Linked DNA regions of Homo sapiens: region 1 is linked to region 2. The links come from fine-mapping of genetic effects on gene expression. Tissue or cell type: whole blood. Region 2 holds a variant in brackets; the other region holds the start of a gene. All regions are shown on one strand. Distances are from middle to middle.

Region 1 (8,107 bases), 76 kb before region 2:
TAAAACCCCATTTGGTGCTATTGAGTTTGTTCTTTATTCTTTTATCCCAGTGAAAATTGTTGATCTTGCTGTAGGGAAAAATTAAACTCTTTGAATCTCCAAACAAGGAAGTTTCAGCATTCCCTTATGGATCAGAGGAACCTTAGAGGCCTGAAATTGTTGCTTCCAGTTTAGCTGCCCCTCAAATTCAAGTGAATATTTTCCCTTCTCCCTTTACCCTTCTCCAGAAATAAAGCAGGTGACAGGGTTTTCAGAATCTTACCATATTGACTTGTGTATCTTTTTTAAAAAATAATTTGTGATATTTATTGCATACATTTTCTTTTGGCAGTTTTGGATTTTAGGTATTTTTTTGCATGAGGCTGATAATGGTGATGATGACTTTATACCCTTGGTACTATACTAGGAACTTTACATAGTATCTCTACTTCTCACAGTCTTGCAAAGTAGGTGATATTATTCCCATTTTATAGTTGAGAAAACGGAATTAGTGACTGTACCTATAACACCAGTAAATGCAGAGCCAAGATTCTGACCCAGGTCTTTTTGTTGTACCATAAGTTTAAAAGATGAGTCTCATTTTTCTTGTGGTAGATGGTGGTAAAAAGGAGTAGGCAGAGTGTACATAGATAAAAAAAAGTAAAAGGGTAAGTAAAAAATTGATTGTGGTATATGTTATTCTAATCAGCCAAAAAAGTTTAGAAGATTGATGAAATGATCTTTTAAATATGTATTTCTGAATAAAATGTAAAACCAAGAAAGTTATTTCAGGAAGGATAGTGACCCTTTCCTTGAACTGTTAGAAGGGCATTTATTAGGCTAAAACGTCATTAACAAAATGCATTGCATGTTGAAACCAGCCTCTTGAACCATAAGCACTTAGCGACTTTGCTCTGCCCTGTACTGTGCTGCTTCTGCTGTCATCCTGTGTGCCTACAGAAGCCTGGTCTTCCGTCCATGCAGAAATGCTTATGTCCTCCTGTTGTTTAGATGACTCCTATTGTTCAGGTGTACTCTGAGAAGAGAATCACGTTTTTCTGTTTTGCTAAGGAGAAAACCTTGCTGCTTGTCTCTCCTCCCACCCTCCACCATCCAAAATTAACCAGTGAGCTGGATATTACCTGGATATTGCCAGGAGGTGGGCATTAAGACAGTATTCTTTAAAAGTGAAAATCTTGTGAGGCAAACTGCTAAATTCACATTTTTGTTTTTTTTTTTTTACCATCTTCCCTAGGAATATTCCTAGAAAGCATCTGCTTAATTTTGCTGCTAACAGCTAACCTTATCCCACGTTGAGGGTGGTATTAAAACTGTTCACACAGAGTGAGCCTGGGTCAGTCAAAAACAGAATTTGGGCATTTGAGTGATAACAGACAACCTAAGGACAATGAGCACTTTGCAGATCTCTACAATTAAAAGTTGCCTCTTTGAGGCAGGAGGGGAGAAGCACAGTCCCTGCCAGGTTGCCTGAACTAAAGATGCCATGGAGCAGGAGTGTCTTGGTGCATTGTTCCCCGCTTAGGAGTACCTTTAAAAAGGGGGTGAAATAAATTTGGCTTAATAATTGTATTCTGACTCAGCTCTGAGTTTTTTGTGTCAAATTCCATGGTATGGTGACAGATACAGTACTAGATACTGCCTCAGCTCTCTCTCAGCATAATATTGACAAACATTTGGTAAAATGTGTTACCAGTCGTTATCTTGGCTTCAGCCTTCCTCTGCATTGGCTGAGTTGCCGTTTCTAGCATGATACATGCTTTATTAGTGACAGGATGTGAAGTGTCTCAGGGATTTCCTTTTGGTGAGGACCCCAGACCACCCGAAGAAGAATTAGAACTTTCTGGACTACAGGTTATATACTGTGATTTTGCTCTGTCAAGCAACATAAATTGATCCTTGAACGCTGTGAGAGTTATGGACACAGACCCTCACACAGTTGAAAATCTGCTATGACTTTTGACTGCCCGAAAACTTAATAGCCTACTGTTGACTGGAAGCCTTATTGATAACATAAACAGTTGATTAATGTGCATTTTGTATATGTAGTATATACCTTATTATAATAAGCTCGAGAAAAGAAAATGTTATTAAGAAAATCAAAGAAGAGAAAATACATTTACTGTTCATTAAGTGGGTCATCATGTTGAGCAGGCTGACGAGTAAGAAGAGGAGGGGTAGTCTTGCTGTCTCAGGGGTGGCGGGGAAGGAAGAAAATCTGCATGCAACTGGCCCTGTGCAGTTGAAGGCCCTGTTGTTCAAGGGTCACAGATTTAGCTTCACTTACCCACCCCTCAGATCAGAATTACTCAAGATTTCCCTGTCTTCAAAGAGACGCAAGGAAATTATGCCAAATGGTGAATATATTGGGTGGAAGATAAATGAGAGAAGGTTGTATGTGTCACTGATCTCAACTATAGCATTTGCTGCTGATATAGAACATGCTGTGTATATATCTATAAATACACACACATGAACACATTGCATGTATATAAAAATTGTTCACACTTTTAGTGGTGCTTACTGGGTATTGGTAAAGGATTGAGTAGGCACTGTGATGAAACTTCACAAAGCAGATGGAAAAGATGCATTAATAGCCACAGGGGGCAGGGTAAGGGAGCAATTCAGGAAAATGGAGAGGCTTAGCTAAAATTTGTCAGTCAGGAATTTTGGCATTTGAGACTTGTTTTCATACTATGTATATGTAATAGACAAACCCTTCATTTTGTAGTAACAGTGTTAGAACAGCCAGGTGCCTGAAGGCAAGCGACACAATTCACTGAAGAGCATACTACAGATGTAGTATCCGGATATCAAGTTTCCCCACTTAAAAAATGGGTGCGATCAAAGGAAAAGCAAGGAACGGGCAGGAGAGCAAGCGTGAAAGGTGACAAACTTGACAATTACAAGGCCGAGACTAAGGCCAATTTAGGGAACGGGCTGTTAGACTAGGAACAAGGGCGAGTTCAGAGGGAGGGGCAGAATGTGGGCAGCACTCCTGGGCCCTGAGACCCTTCTGCGGAATAAAACTCTGGCACTTCGCCACCTCCTAGGCTGAACCAAGATGGCGCGCGGCCTCAAAGCGGCGCTCTCGTCACGTGCCCGGACCCGAGGCGCTTGGGGGCGGGAGGCGTGGCCTCGGTCGCGGCAGCCCAGCCCCGCCTAGGGGGCGGAGCCGGGGGGGGTTGTCCGCGGAGGAAGGGGGCGGGGCCCCGCGGCCGCGCGCTTGGGCGGCGGAGGCTGCAGCTACCTCGGCGCCGGCTCGGCTCTAGGACGTGTCGGGCTGCACGGGTCGGGGGCGGCTCCCTGCTGCTTCCGAGCCTAGCCGCCTGGCCTTCGGCATTTGCAGGCAGGTGAGCGCCCAGAGCCTGGACTGGGGTAGGATGCGTCTTTTCCCCATCTCCAGCTCCCCTCGACAGTTTGGGGAGGGGTCTCGTCTATCGCACCTCGGGAAACAGCCCTTTTTGACTCCGTATGTGCTACCTCCGGCAGGCGTCGGTACTGCTTACCCTGCCGCCCCTCGCCCTCCTTTGCGGTGCCCTGTGCCCTTGGGGGTGAGGATAGGGGCGATGCCTGATCTGCGGGGAGGGCGTGGAGTGCGCCCTCTGCTCCATCGGCTTCAGGGGAGGGGGCCGAGTTGGCGAGTCTCCCGGTGGGAACGGAGCAGACTGCGCCCCCATTTCCCCTCCAGGAGAGTCAGAAAAAGCGCCTCTCGGCTCCGGGGCCAACCCCACTCCTTTGGGGACGCGATTCTGATGGGCTGAGGTCTTCGCTCTTCGCGGGGGTCTTAATCTTTCCCGAGTTGCTCATAGCACCCCTGTTCCTGTCGCTAGCTCTCCATTCCTCGAACTGCCAGCCTCAGTCTGTGCCAGAGATGCCCCCATCTCCGCAGTGCCAGGGCGGTGGGGTGGAAGGAGCGGCCAACCCGAGGCCTGGTGGGGGTGGGGACAGGGGTGGGCGCAACAGGAAAAGAGGGCTGGAATAGAGATGCCTGAACTGGGAGGGTGGGAGTGGGGCGCTGACTTACGTCCACGCAGTAGGGATGTTTTCCAGCGCAGATTTTGAGGTTTTGATGGTGGGTGGGAAGAGAGAGGTCGGGCTGGAGGACTTGGAGACATGGTGTAGGTGGTTTTCTTCGAGAAGGAGGAGGGATCCAGGACAAGGTGCCACTAGGAGCTGATGTCACCTTTGAGGAGAGGTGTGCTGGTAGTTTCCATCAGAGGAGCAGGAGAGTTGGGGCCGTTCTGTGTGGAGAGCAAGTGGTTAAGGAGGCGCTGCTTCGCAGGGAGATCCCCTCCTGGTGTGAGCTTAAGGGTCCCCTCCAGGAGCCAGGTTTCAGGGATTTCCCATAGTCCTTTCCAGAGTTCTTGGATCTGGTACCTAGTACTTTGCTCAACATCCAGCAAACATTTGTTGGACACCTACTATCTGCCAGATACTATGCTCGGTGCTAGGTCTTCTGAAGGCAATTTACAGCCACGGAGTAGCTGAAAGGTACACATAGGAGGCACACATAGCAGGTATTCTGTTAACACCCTTCTCACCGCCCATCCCCATTCTGTTACATTGCTGTTGGATTAGAAAAAGAAAGAACTGTGTCCACGTGCTTTCAAACAGCTGTCTGAATTAGACTCCAACCTACACACCCCCTACCACTATTAACTGGCCAGGTAGTCCCAGGGAAGCTGCCTAAGCAAAAGGGCAGCTTGAATGATTTCCCTTGGTTATTTTCTCAGATTTTGTCCTGAGGCTTGAGGAGGCTTCGTGGGGTAAACGGTATCTCAAAGTAAGGAGATAATGAATGACAAAATGGTTATTGGGGGCCAAGAATGTCCTAGACACTCTGTGTAGTGGGAGACGCCATCTCTGGAAGATGGAATAGTGTGGGGGAGGAGGGTGTAGAAGGGAATTCGCATCCAGTGGAGTTGGGGTTTGTGCTGCTGAGCATGTCGTGATGTCAGAACCGTGTGGTGCATGAGGTCTGGCTGCTGGGCTGTAAAGGAGGGCTGGAGGGGCAGGGCATGGCAGGCAGCCAGGCTCCTGGGTCTCATCTCTGAGTTGATTGCTGAAATCTTAGAGTTGGAAAGAGTTGTCAGGGATGGCTTATAGGTCCTCACAGAGCCTCTGAGGATGGCAGAGCTAGAGCTAGGCAAGAGAATGAGTAGTCAGGCTGTGGTGGTGATGAGGTGGGGATGAAGGCTCAGCAGGGCTGGGGAGCTGGGTGTTAAGGGGGTTTTAAGATATGGGCAGCTAGCCGAGGCCTTCGAATGCCAAGGACATTCTTCCCTGGGCTTTAGGCCCTACTGTGTTGGCTCCATAGGTGAGTTGCTGTAGAAACAAGGTGTGGCAATTGAGTGGTATGGGGTGTGTGTGTGTGTGCACACGCGTGTGTGAGTGTGTGTGCTTGTGCATGTGTTGGAGAGGAGGAGAGGTGAGGAGCAGGGAGGACTGAGGGAGTGAAAGCTGCCTCAAAGTCTGGGTCCTACGTAGGGAATTGAGAGAAATGGAGGGGAGGGAGTGGGGTCAGAGGGAGGGACAAGTGTGTATTGCAGCCACATGAAGTCACCATCTGTCCCCCTCTGGCCTGCTAGCTCACGGACCTATAATTAGCTCTGGAGGGCATACGGTGCTGGCTCACAGGAGCGTGGGACTTCGGGTGGCCAGCAGAGTGGAGGATTCAGAGGGACCATGGTCCTTGATGTACTGTGGAAGGGGCTGCTTCTAGGGGACCCTCTGCATTTGCTGTACTGGGAGGGGCCTGAGGCAACTGAGAATGTCACAGGGACAGGGCTGGTGGGGGAAACAGCAGTGGGGGAAGGAGCTCTAAGCGAGGATGGCAGGAGACTCCAGGGCTGGTCTGAGCCTGAGACCTCCCCGTTTGTTGCCTGGCTGCTGGCCCACTGCACAAGAAGCACGATTGCTGCCCAGCTCATTGCTCTGCCTTCAGAGAGGCTCGGGTGCTGCAACCTCGGGGCCTCCTTGAGGTGTCTCCATCCCCCCAGGTGAAGTCAGCTGTAGCGTGGAATAGCCATCTGCCTTTCACTTGGTGGCTGAGAGGCCTTGGCTGGGGATGCTTCGTTCTGAGAGAGTTGGAGGAGAAGCTGCCACCAGTTAATTCCGTTGGTCAAACTCCACGTGGTGCTCAGCACTGACCCCCTGGCTGTGCCAGAGACTGAGTGTTTGGTCACATGCTTCTCTGTACTGCTCTCCAGTGATTACATGTGTATCTGTGTTCTCTCAAGTAGCCTGTGAACTTTCTGTCTTACATGTCTTTTGCTTTCATAACAGTATCGGATGCATGGAAATCACTCAGTAAGTGATCATTGGATTGAATTGAAGAGGTCTGTCTTCTGATCCCCTGAGTTCCATGAAGCAGGGCCTCCTTGCCACTGGAGATATTTAACCTGGAGCAGCGAAGCCTCTGGGGACCCAGGACACTGGTGTTACATCCCTTTGGGGGCATTAGATTCTGTGGGCAGTAGATGAAGTGAAAACTTCCCAGTCTCTCATAAAGCATGGCATATGGGTTTATAACCCTGAACAGTAATATGAATGTATAGATATGGTATATATGTATTCTATATTATGTAAATAGATACTGTATATACTACTGTAGAGTGATTTTACAAAGAGTGCATACGCACAATATGATTTTGTAGTGAAGTGTCAGATGAAATAGCTGATTTGATTTTAGAGGCCTTTATTGCTTATTTCGCCCAGCTGTTAAGAGTTGAATTCTCATAAGTTAGATATATACTTGATGTGCCTTCATGGCCACTGTCTTCAGATAGATAACTGTCATTTCAAAGAGAGATGGGTTTTCCATTCAATTTAAGAAAAAGCTTCCTTAGAACGATGAAGCCTTCCTCATTTGATAGTGAGCTGCTTGTTCCTGAAGGATAATCAAGTCAAGACTGGGCTGCCAGGGATGTTGTGAAAGGAACTCCCACACAGGGTGGGAAGTGGCCTGTGTGACCTCCGAGAGCCCTTCTGAGTCCAGGTGTGAGGTGAGGCTGGATGGGAGAGGGCCTCAGCAGCTGCTTCAGAAGATGGCTCTCCTTTGGCCTAGAGGAGCGCTGCTGGGAGTGGAGGCCTGGGGAGTGGGGCCGGGCCTGGAGCTTTGCATGAGCTGTTCCGTGAGGAGTGGGCATTTTGGGACATGCAGGGGGGTGACCCCAGAAATCTCATGGACATGGAGGCCTGGGCTTGGGAGATGGTGCAGTGCATCCCTGATGGGTGGGGGTAGGTAGAAAGATGGGATGGCCCCAGTTCCATGACTTCAGCTTAAACTAGGCTAGTTGTGGAGTGCCCCAAATTTTTGGTCCTACTTTGGGGCAGAGCCCCTGGAGTAAGTGGAGCTTTCATTCTTTCAGTATCACCCCATCCCTCCCTCCTCTCTCGATTATACCTTCTCACATAGGTTCGAGGCCACACGTGGACTTACGCTGTCTCATGAGCAGCAATACACTTTCATGATCACACACGCATACTTGCACAAGCTCTCACAGCTCCCATGTGCTCCTGGGAGCATGTATGATGTTATGAATCCCAGATGCTTATGCATGTATGACCACACACATTTACTGTCATGGCTGTGTACCCACACATGTGTTCTCATGACCACAATTATATGCAGTCAAGATCCCTGATGTACTTATGACCACACACATCTACACACTGTCATGAGTCTATATACCTACTTGCTCTCATGCCTGTGCTCTCAGGATGCCATTCTTATGACCATACCTTTATACACAGACATACATACAACATATACTCTCTCTCTCTCTCGGTCCCCTTTTCCCCTCTCTCTCCCTATTGCCCAGGCTGGAGTGCAGTGGCATGATCATGGCTCACTGCAGCCTCAACCTCCTGGGTTCAAGTGCTCCTCCCACCTCAGTCTCCCGAGTAGCTGGGAATACAGGTGCATGCCACCATGCCCAGCTAGTTTTCATATTTTTAGTAGAGATGGGGTTTTGCCATGTTGCCCAGGCTGGTTTCTAAGTCCTGAGCTTAAGCAATCTCCCTGCCTTGGCCTTCCAAAGTGCTACTGCACCGAGGGCTTATGCCCGAGGCATGAACTACCACTGCACTGGCTTCTCTTCCTTTT
Region 2 (8,107 bases):
CCTCTCCCTACCCCACCCCCAGTGGCACATCACAGGCATGTCTTTTCTTTGACTCTTTTCTGTAACTGGAGTAAGGAGTGTGGGAAGTTCGGACGTTGGATTCTAGTTCTAGCTCTGCCATTAACCCGTATGTGACTTTGAGAATTGGAAGCCGGTATTTATTGAGGCTCTGCTCTGTGCTGAGTACCTCACTCCCTTCTCACGGCATGACTGTGGAGATGACAGGGTCCCCATTTTACAAAAGACAAACCTGAGGATCAGAGAGGTTAATAAACTTGCACCAAATCACACAGCTATGGAGTTCACATCTCCCTGACTCTACAGTCTTTTTCCACTGCACAGTGCTGACTTCCCTAGGGACCTGTTTCCTGATCCATAAAATAAGGGAATTGGATTTATTGTTCTAGAAAGTTCCTTCTGGTGTTGGCATTTTGTCACCACCTGCTCAGGGCCTCTGGAAGGATCTGAGGAAATTTCTGCTCAGCTTCCTGGCTTGGCTTCCTTGCCTTTCCCTGACCTTCTCTTTTGTTTGTCTATTCTCAGGCCTTCCTTACCATCCTTTCCAGTGAGTTGGTGTGAGACAAGGAACCAAATGTTTCCCTGGAGTCAGTGCAGTTCCATCTGCTGCGTTCCCTGCATAGCGGGCCGTGGGAACACTGTGTTCCACCCTCCAGACCCTGGTGCCTGGAGTGTTTTCCCTGAGCCACCCTGCCTGTCTGCATTCCCCTTTCTGTGGGGGCTTGGGCCAGCCCAAGTCAGGACCCATTTGCTTTTCTGTTTCTGAAAGCAGATGGCTTCCTAGTGGTAGGGGCAGGGTTGGGTGGACTTGCTTCCCAGGCACAAGGATTTTTATCAGCAGGCTGTTCCCATTTCTAGAGTGCCAACCCTTGTGTCCTCACACCACTGAAGGAGTTCATGCAGCCAGACATTTAGTGATTCACTTGTTCCACATCGTCAGCCCATCTTGGCTCCCCCACAGTGGAGACAAAGCCCTGACTTCAGATTTCTAGCTGTGGCTCATCTCACCTGTGGTTTGCTTTCCTGAGCTTACAGGTGAGGAAGTAGAGGCATTGGGAGGTGGGTCAGGGGCCAGCCTGGGATAGGAGCTCAGGAACCTGTCCTTCCCTGATTCGGGGTCCTCCTACCCTGCCCTTTCAGGAGGGCTGCGGCCACAACACGGGCCTCATCTTTCTTGGCTGTTACTAGATTTCTGAAAGCAGCTGTTTGTTTGTTGGCTTGTGAGCTCTCATACTTCCTGGTCCAAGGGCAAGGAGCAATGGTTTTGTGGTTTGTTTGTTTGTTTGTTTTAAATTCTTGAACCTAGAGCCAGCTGCATTCTTCATGTAATGTCACCTGGTAGGGGTTGGATGGTCAAGGAAGTACCTGGGTCCAGAGTAGGATTGCCTCAGGGGGACAATGTGACCATCATCACCATGCCATCATCAACAGTTGCATCATCATTTAGGACCTTCCTGTTTACTGGGTACTGTGATAAATGCATTAGGCACATTAACTATTTTGTCCCTACAATGAGTCTATGAGCTAGGTATTATTACCAGTTTTCAGACTGGGAGTCATGGTGTATTAGTCTGTTTTCACACTGCTGTAAGGAACTACCTGATACTGGGTAATTTAGGAAGAAAAGAGGTTTAATTGACTCACAGTTCTGCAGGCTGTACAGGAAGCATGACTGGGAGGCCTGAGGAAACTTACAATTATGGCGGAAAGTGAAGGAGAAGGAAGCACCTTCTTCACATAGTGGCAGGCGGATTGGGGGAAGTGCCACACACTTTTAAACAACCAGATCTCAGCCGGGCGCGGTGGCTCATGCCTGTAATCCCAGCACTTCAGGAGGCCGAGGCGGATGGATCACGAGGTCAGGAGTTCGAGAACAGCCTGGCCAACATGTGGTGAAACCCCGTCTCTACTAAAAATACAAAAATTAGCCAGCTGTGGTGGTAGGTGCCTGTAATCCCAGCTACTTGGGAGGCTAAGGCAGGATAATTGCTTGAACCTGGGAGGCAGAGGTTGTAGTGAGCCGAGATCATGCCACTGCACTCCAGCCTGGGTAACAGAGCAAGATTCCATCTCAAATAACAAACAAACAAACAAAAAACAAAAAACCCAGCCAGTTCTCACGAGAACTCTATCACGAGAGAGCACTAGGGGGATGGTGCTAACCCCTTAGAAACTGCCCCCATGATCCAATTACCTCCCATCAAGCTCTACTTTCAACAGGTGGGGATTACAATTCGACATGAGATTTGGGTGGGGACACAGAGCCAAATCATATTGTATGGTTAAGAAATTTGCTGTGGTGCAATTGGAAGATAAAGGCAGGATTAGAACCCAGCCTGGCTTACTCCAAAGTCAGTGGACAGTCTTCTCCATTAAGATCTATAGCCATTAAGGTTGACCTTGGACAACCTTGGTGACAACTCCTCTTTAGAGTGTGTATACAGTAGATACTCAGCAAGTGCACATTGTGGATATTCGCTACATACTCACTGAGTAGTGAAACTAAGCAATAAAGTCCATGTCATTGAAGCAAGTCCCTTCTGTGGCACAGAGTGAGAATTCAGAGATCTGAATCCTGTGAATAGCCACGTGCTCTATGACCAGGGGTGAATTACTGGCCCTTTTGACCTTGGGAAAAAACAAGGATGTAATTCAGAGGAACGTAGAACTGTAGACTGCTTCCGGGGGCTGGATGACTTGACCTTCAAAAAGGTTGTTGCAGCCGGAAGAGTAGGTGAGCTGCATCAAGTTGCCTGGGGCTTTGTTTATCCTGAGACAGACAGCCTTGCTCCTGGAGTTGTGAATTTCTGAGCATTCCATCCACCCATTGGTGGGGTACTTGGCACCAGTGCCTGGAGCCCTGGGAGTGGGTGCTGGCAGGATCAGTTGTGCTTGTGGCGCCTCACTCCCTGCACATGCTGCTCCTGGGCTCGAGCTTGGGGAGCAGACAGTGCCTCCTGACTGGTTTTCCTTTAGCTTTGATCTTGCTGGCTGTCCTTGCCAGGGCTTGGCTGCCAGCCTTGGTGGTTGATAGCCAACCTTTGACCTTTGACATCCAGCCTTCCCCCTCCTCCACATGTGCTAACCACAGTGAAATCACAGATGCACAAATTATCAGAACTGGGAAGAATCTTAGGCCAACTGCATCATTTTAAAGAGGAGAAACTGAGAAGTAGGGAGGAGGAAGTCCTTGTCTAAAGTGACAGATGGCAGAATGGAGTAAGCCACATTGGACTTTAGCAGCCTGCCTGCCTTGTCTTCAAGAGCCAGGAAATATTCATTTAATATCTTCTACATATAATCACACCACCTTTACCTAGGTGATCACTTAGGTACACACACACACACACACACACACACACACACACACGTTGTCTAGAGTCTCCCTTCTGGACCTCTGCCTGCCCCAGATCCTTCCAGATTCCTGTCACTGCCCCCCTATCA[A/G]AGATCCTTGCCCAATTTTCTACCCCAGTGATCTTGCCTCTGTTGGGTGGCAAAGGGCTGATGTGACATAGCTGTGACATAGATGTGATGTTAGGCCCTTGGCCTCTCCTCCTTCCCATACAGAGCAGATAGAGAGCTTCACTACTTATGGATATGAGGCCTTAGGTTGGTTCCTTACCCTCACCAAGCCTCAGTTTTCTCATTTTGGAAATGGGGATAATAACGCACTTAGCTTATTGCCTGGCACCCAGTCAGCTAATAAAATGTTAGCTATTATTTATTATTATTAATGGGACTATGATTATTCCTAAAAGCAGTAGCTCTCTGGAAGACTTCTCATCTAGCCTGTAGGAGGGGGCTTTGGCTCCATAACTTTTCCATGGTGGTACCCCCATCCCTAAAACAAAGTCCTGCATTCTAGGAGGGCTTCTGGAGGTCTCAATCCCTACCCTGGCCCCAACCATTGTCAGCCAAGCCTCTTGCATTTCACCGATCTCAACTCTGCCTGTTGCAAGTTATAAATAACCCTGGCCATCTGTGCTATGAAACCCCAATACTGAGACCAAAGCAGAAGCTTCCTAGATCCCTGCCTCCTTCCCCATCTTCCCCTGCTTCTGGCAGGAGTTTTGTTTTCTCTGCTTTAGAATTTAAAGCTTCTTCCCTTTGTGCTGCCTCCCCCATCCCAAAGCCTGTGCGTGGACTCTCCATCACTGCAGATGTCGAGGAACTCTCTGGGGAACAGTTCTCTTAGAAGGAAGTGCCCATTTCAAGAAATTGCACAGAAGCGGTGTGCTCCCTCCTGAGCCATTGGCTGGACAGGGCCAGCAGCTGCCAGGCAGATGAAATGTGCACGGAAAACATGAGGGTACCAGAGGCAGGCACCACTCACAGCAGAGGGGCTTCAAAGTTTCAAAGCCAAGCAAATCCTCAACCTCGTTGGGGGTTGAGGGGAGAATCCTTGGGCTCTTTCCTCACTGTCATTCTCACCCTCTAAGAAAACATACTTTTGATAAGTCCTATGCACTTTGGCCCCTCTCAATCTGCCAAAGTGATAATTAGCTAATCTGGGTGGCTATATGTTAGGGACTAAATGCTTGTGTTCCCAAAATTCATGTGCTGAAGCCCTAACCCCCAGTGTGATGGTCTTTGGAAATAAGGCCTTTGAGAGGTAATTAAGATTACATGAAGTCATGAGTGTGGGGCCCTCATGATGGGATCAGTGACCTAATGAGCTTGCGTGCACACGCACTCTCTTTCCCTCACTACCCGTCTGCACCCACGGGCCATGCATACATCAAGAAAATGCCAGATGAGTGCACAGGGAGAAGGCAGCTATCTGCAATTCAGGAAGAAAGCCCTCACCACAGTTGGACCATGCTGGCACACTGATCTCAGTTTTGGCCTCCAGAACTGTGAGAAAATAAATTTCTGTTGCTAAAGCCACTTAGCCTATGATATTTTGTTATGGCAGCCCAAATTGACTAATAACACTATATAAACAGAATGGCCAGGACATTCCCTCTTCTTAGGAAAAACATGTCATCAGGGGCTTCCTGCAGACAATGCCGATGACTGATGGTCTGCTGGGTTAATGAATTCTAGTACAGAGGCAGCCATGTTTTTTTCCATCTTGAGCCAGATGATCCGACATCCATAAAGTTATAATTGTTGTACCAAATTTTACTAAATAGAAGGAGATATTTACAAATTATAATGTATAAAATAATCCAACAACATTCATATCCCTGCCAATCCGGTTTAAGAAAGATAACCTGGCAGCATTTTCTTTGAATAATCTTACCCATTCCTTCCTTGAGCTGAGCTAAGTCATTGTTAATTTCATGCTTCTAATTTCCTTGCTTTTCTTTGTAGATTTATTATTGTTTATTTGTATCCTTAAATGATATGTGGTTTGATTTTATATGTTTTTAAATATTTTGTTAATGGAGTCAAAGTATATACATCTTCTTTTGTGACTAACTTCTTTCATCTGTGTTGTGTGTGTTGCAATTCATTTTCTTTTCATTGTAGTGCAGAATTCCATTGTATAAATAAACCACAACTATTCCTCAATTTTATTACCAATGGAAAGTATTTTTCCCCAGTTTGGGAGTACTAATTACTATGCTGCAATGAGTATTCTACTTCATGTCTCTTGATTTCCTACACAGAAAAGTTGTTCTAGGGTATATATAATATATAGAAGTGAAATTGCTGAGTCACAGAGGATATGCATTTTAAATGTTGCTAAATAGTGTAAAAATTCTTTTCTAAAGTGGTTGCACCAACTTATACTTCCAGGAATGGTGGTGTTGTCAGACTTAATTTTTTAAATTGTTTATCTGGAGGTAATAAAATGGTATCTCTTGTGTTAAAAGTTAAATATTCCTGATGACTAATGAAGTTGAACATTTTTTCAGATGTTTACTGGTCATTCAGATTTCTTCATTTGTGAAATTCCTGTTCAAGTAGTTTGCCCATTTTTCTATTGGATCATTTGTCATTTTCTCATTGATTGCAGAAGTTCTTCAGATATTCTTAATGGTAGTCTTTTGTAATGTGGTGTGTGTGTGTGTGTGTGTGTGTAACTACAAATGTCTTCTTCTCCTCTGGTTTGCTTTTTCACTCTCTTAAGCATGTCTTTTGGTGAACAGAAAATTTTTATTTAAATGAAGTCTAGTTTGTCAGTCTCTTACTTTAGGGTTAATGCTTTTCATTCCTGTTAAATCTTTGGTCATTGTAAGGTCACGCAGATACTGTTTTTCTGTTTTCTCCCAGAAGTTTTATTGTTTTATGTTTCACACATATGTCTTCATATGCCTGGAACTGAATTTTGTATGTGGTTTGAGGTGGAGGAATAAACATTTACTTTTTCCCATCATATGGATGTTCAACCGACATCATATGATTTATTGAAAAGATGATTGTTTCCCCACTGCAATGCGATGATATCTTCGTTGAAAATCAAGTAACTATATATATGCATTTCTGGACTATATTGTCTCCCATCTACCCTTGCACCAGTTGTTTTGTTCTTCTTCAAGACTGTCTTCTTCATTTAGAACCAGCTTGCCAATTTCTACCAGAAAACCAACCAAGCAAACAACAAACAAAAAGACTCCTAGAATTTGGGAAAGGACTAACATCTTCACCATATTGAGTCTTTTAACCCATGAATTTGGTGTATCTCTCTATGTGTTTAGATTTTCTATAATATCTCTCAGTAATGCCCTGTAGTCTTCATTGTACAGAATTTTAATATTTTTCACCAGATTTATTCCTAGGTATATGATTTTTGATACTGATATATATAGGCTCTGTAAGTTTTTTATTTTAAAATTGTGTATTGCTAGCATATAGGGATACAATTACTTTTTAATATTAGCCATATATCCAGTGACCTTGGTAAATGCACTTCTAAGTTTTAATAGTTTACATATATAAGTTCTTTTGGACTTTTTATATTCACAGTCATGTTATTCTCTAATAATGACAGATTTTTGGTTTTACATTTCTTATTCATTTTAATTTTGTATTGCCTTATTGTACTGGCTATATCTCCAGTGTAGTGTTGAATTGAAATCATATTAGCAGACATCCTTATCTTGTTCCTGATTTCAAAGGGGAAATCTTTATATATTTTACTACTTAGCATAATATTTGGTGTTATTTTAAAAACATTTTAACAAAATCAGATTAATGGAGTTCCTTTCTACTTCTAGTTTTGAAAGTATTTTACTATAAATAAGCATCGAATGCATTTTCTGCATCTATTGAGATCATTCATTCTTTTCCTTTATTCTGTAAATGTGGTGAATTACATTGATTGGCTTTTAAATGTCAAGTCGTTTTTATATATAATTTTTATATCATTGTATTTGATTAGCTAATATTATGTTTAGACTTTCAATGATGTTCATGAGGGAGACTGATATATAATTTTCCTTTCTTAACAAAGTTTTGTCAGGTTTTAGTACCACATTTATAAATACTATCCTCATAAAACAAATTGGGGAGTGTTTTTCTTTTTCTATTATCTTGAAGTATTTGTGGAAAATTTATGCCCAGTTCTTTATTAAATACTTAGAAGAGTTCAACTGGGAATCCATGTAGTCCTAGAGTTAGGAAATTTTAAAATTACAGATTTAATTTCTTCATTAGAAATAGGACACATAATAAGTTCTATTTATCTTAGTGTTAATTTTCGTAACTTGTGTATTTCAAGAATTTTTCCATTTTGTGAAAAGTTTCAAATGTATTGGCAGTTCTTCATAACGTCCCCTTACATTTTTAACATTTGTAGGATCTGATTTGTAGTGATGGTCCTTTTTTAACTCCTGATGTTGGAATATATGTTTTCTCTGTTTTGTCTTTGAAAAGTTTTTGATTAGTCTTTACAAAGAATCAACTTTTGGCTTTGTTGATTTTTTTATTCTGTGTTTTTTTTTTTCCAACTGTTTCATTGATTCATGCTCTTATCTTTATTATACTCTCTCTTGCATTTCTTTGGGGTTTAACTTGCTCTTCTTTAATAGGTTCTTGAAATGGATGCTTTGATTATTGATTTTCATGCTTCATTTCTATTGTATGTATTAAGGCTTTATTTCTAATAATATGAATATAAATTTCCTTCTAAGAACTGCTT

Evidence for each region. PIP is the estimated chance that this variant, and not a neighbour inherited with it, causes the effect.
Region 1: PPFIA4 starts here. The variant in region 2 is fine-mapped to the expression of PPFIA4 in whole blood (INTERVAL, PIP 0.95).

The regions. Positions count from the first base shown.
Region 1 is chr1:203,023,280-203,031,386 of GRCh38, forward strand. PPFIA4 (PPFI scaffold protein A4) reads left to right here and starts at 3,212. Exons shown (of 30, transcript NM_001304331.2): 1 at 3,212-3,350. It overlaps TMEM183A (transmembrane protein 183A), which reads left to right. Exons shown (of 8, transcript NM_138391.6): 8 at 1-1,569. RefSeq lists a silencer at 3,002-3,311 and an enhancer at 3,138-3,659.
Region 2 is chr1:203,099,307-203,107,413 of GRCh38, forward strand. No RefSeq gene overlaps it. Among named protein-coding and RNA genes, the nearest start is that of MYOG, 17 kb to the left of the region's middle. The variant A/G (reference allele first, on the strand shown) is at 3,463.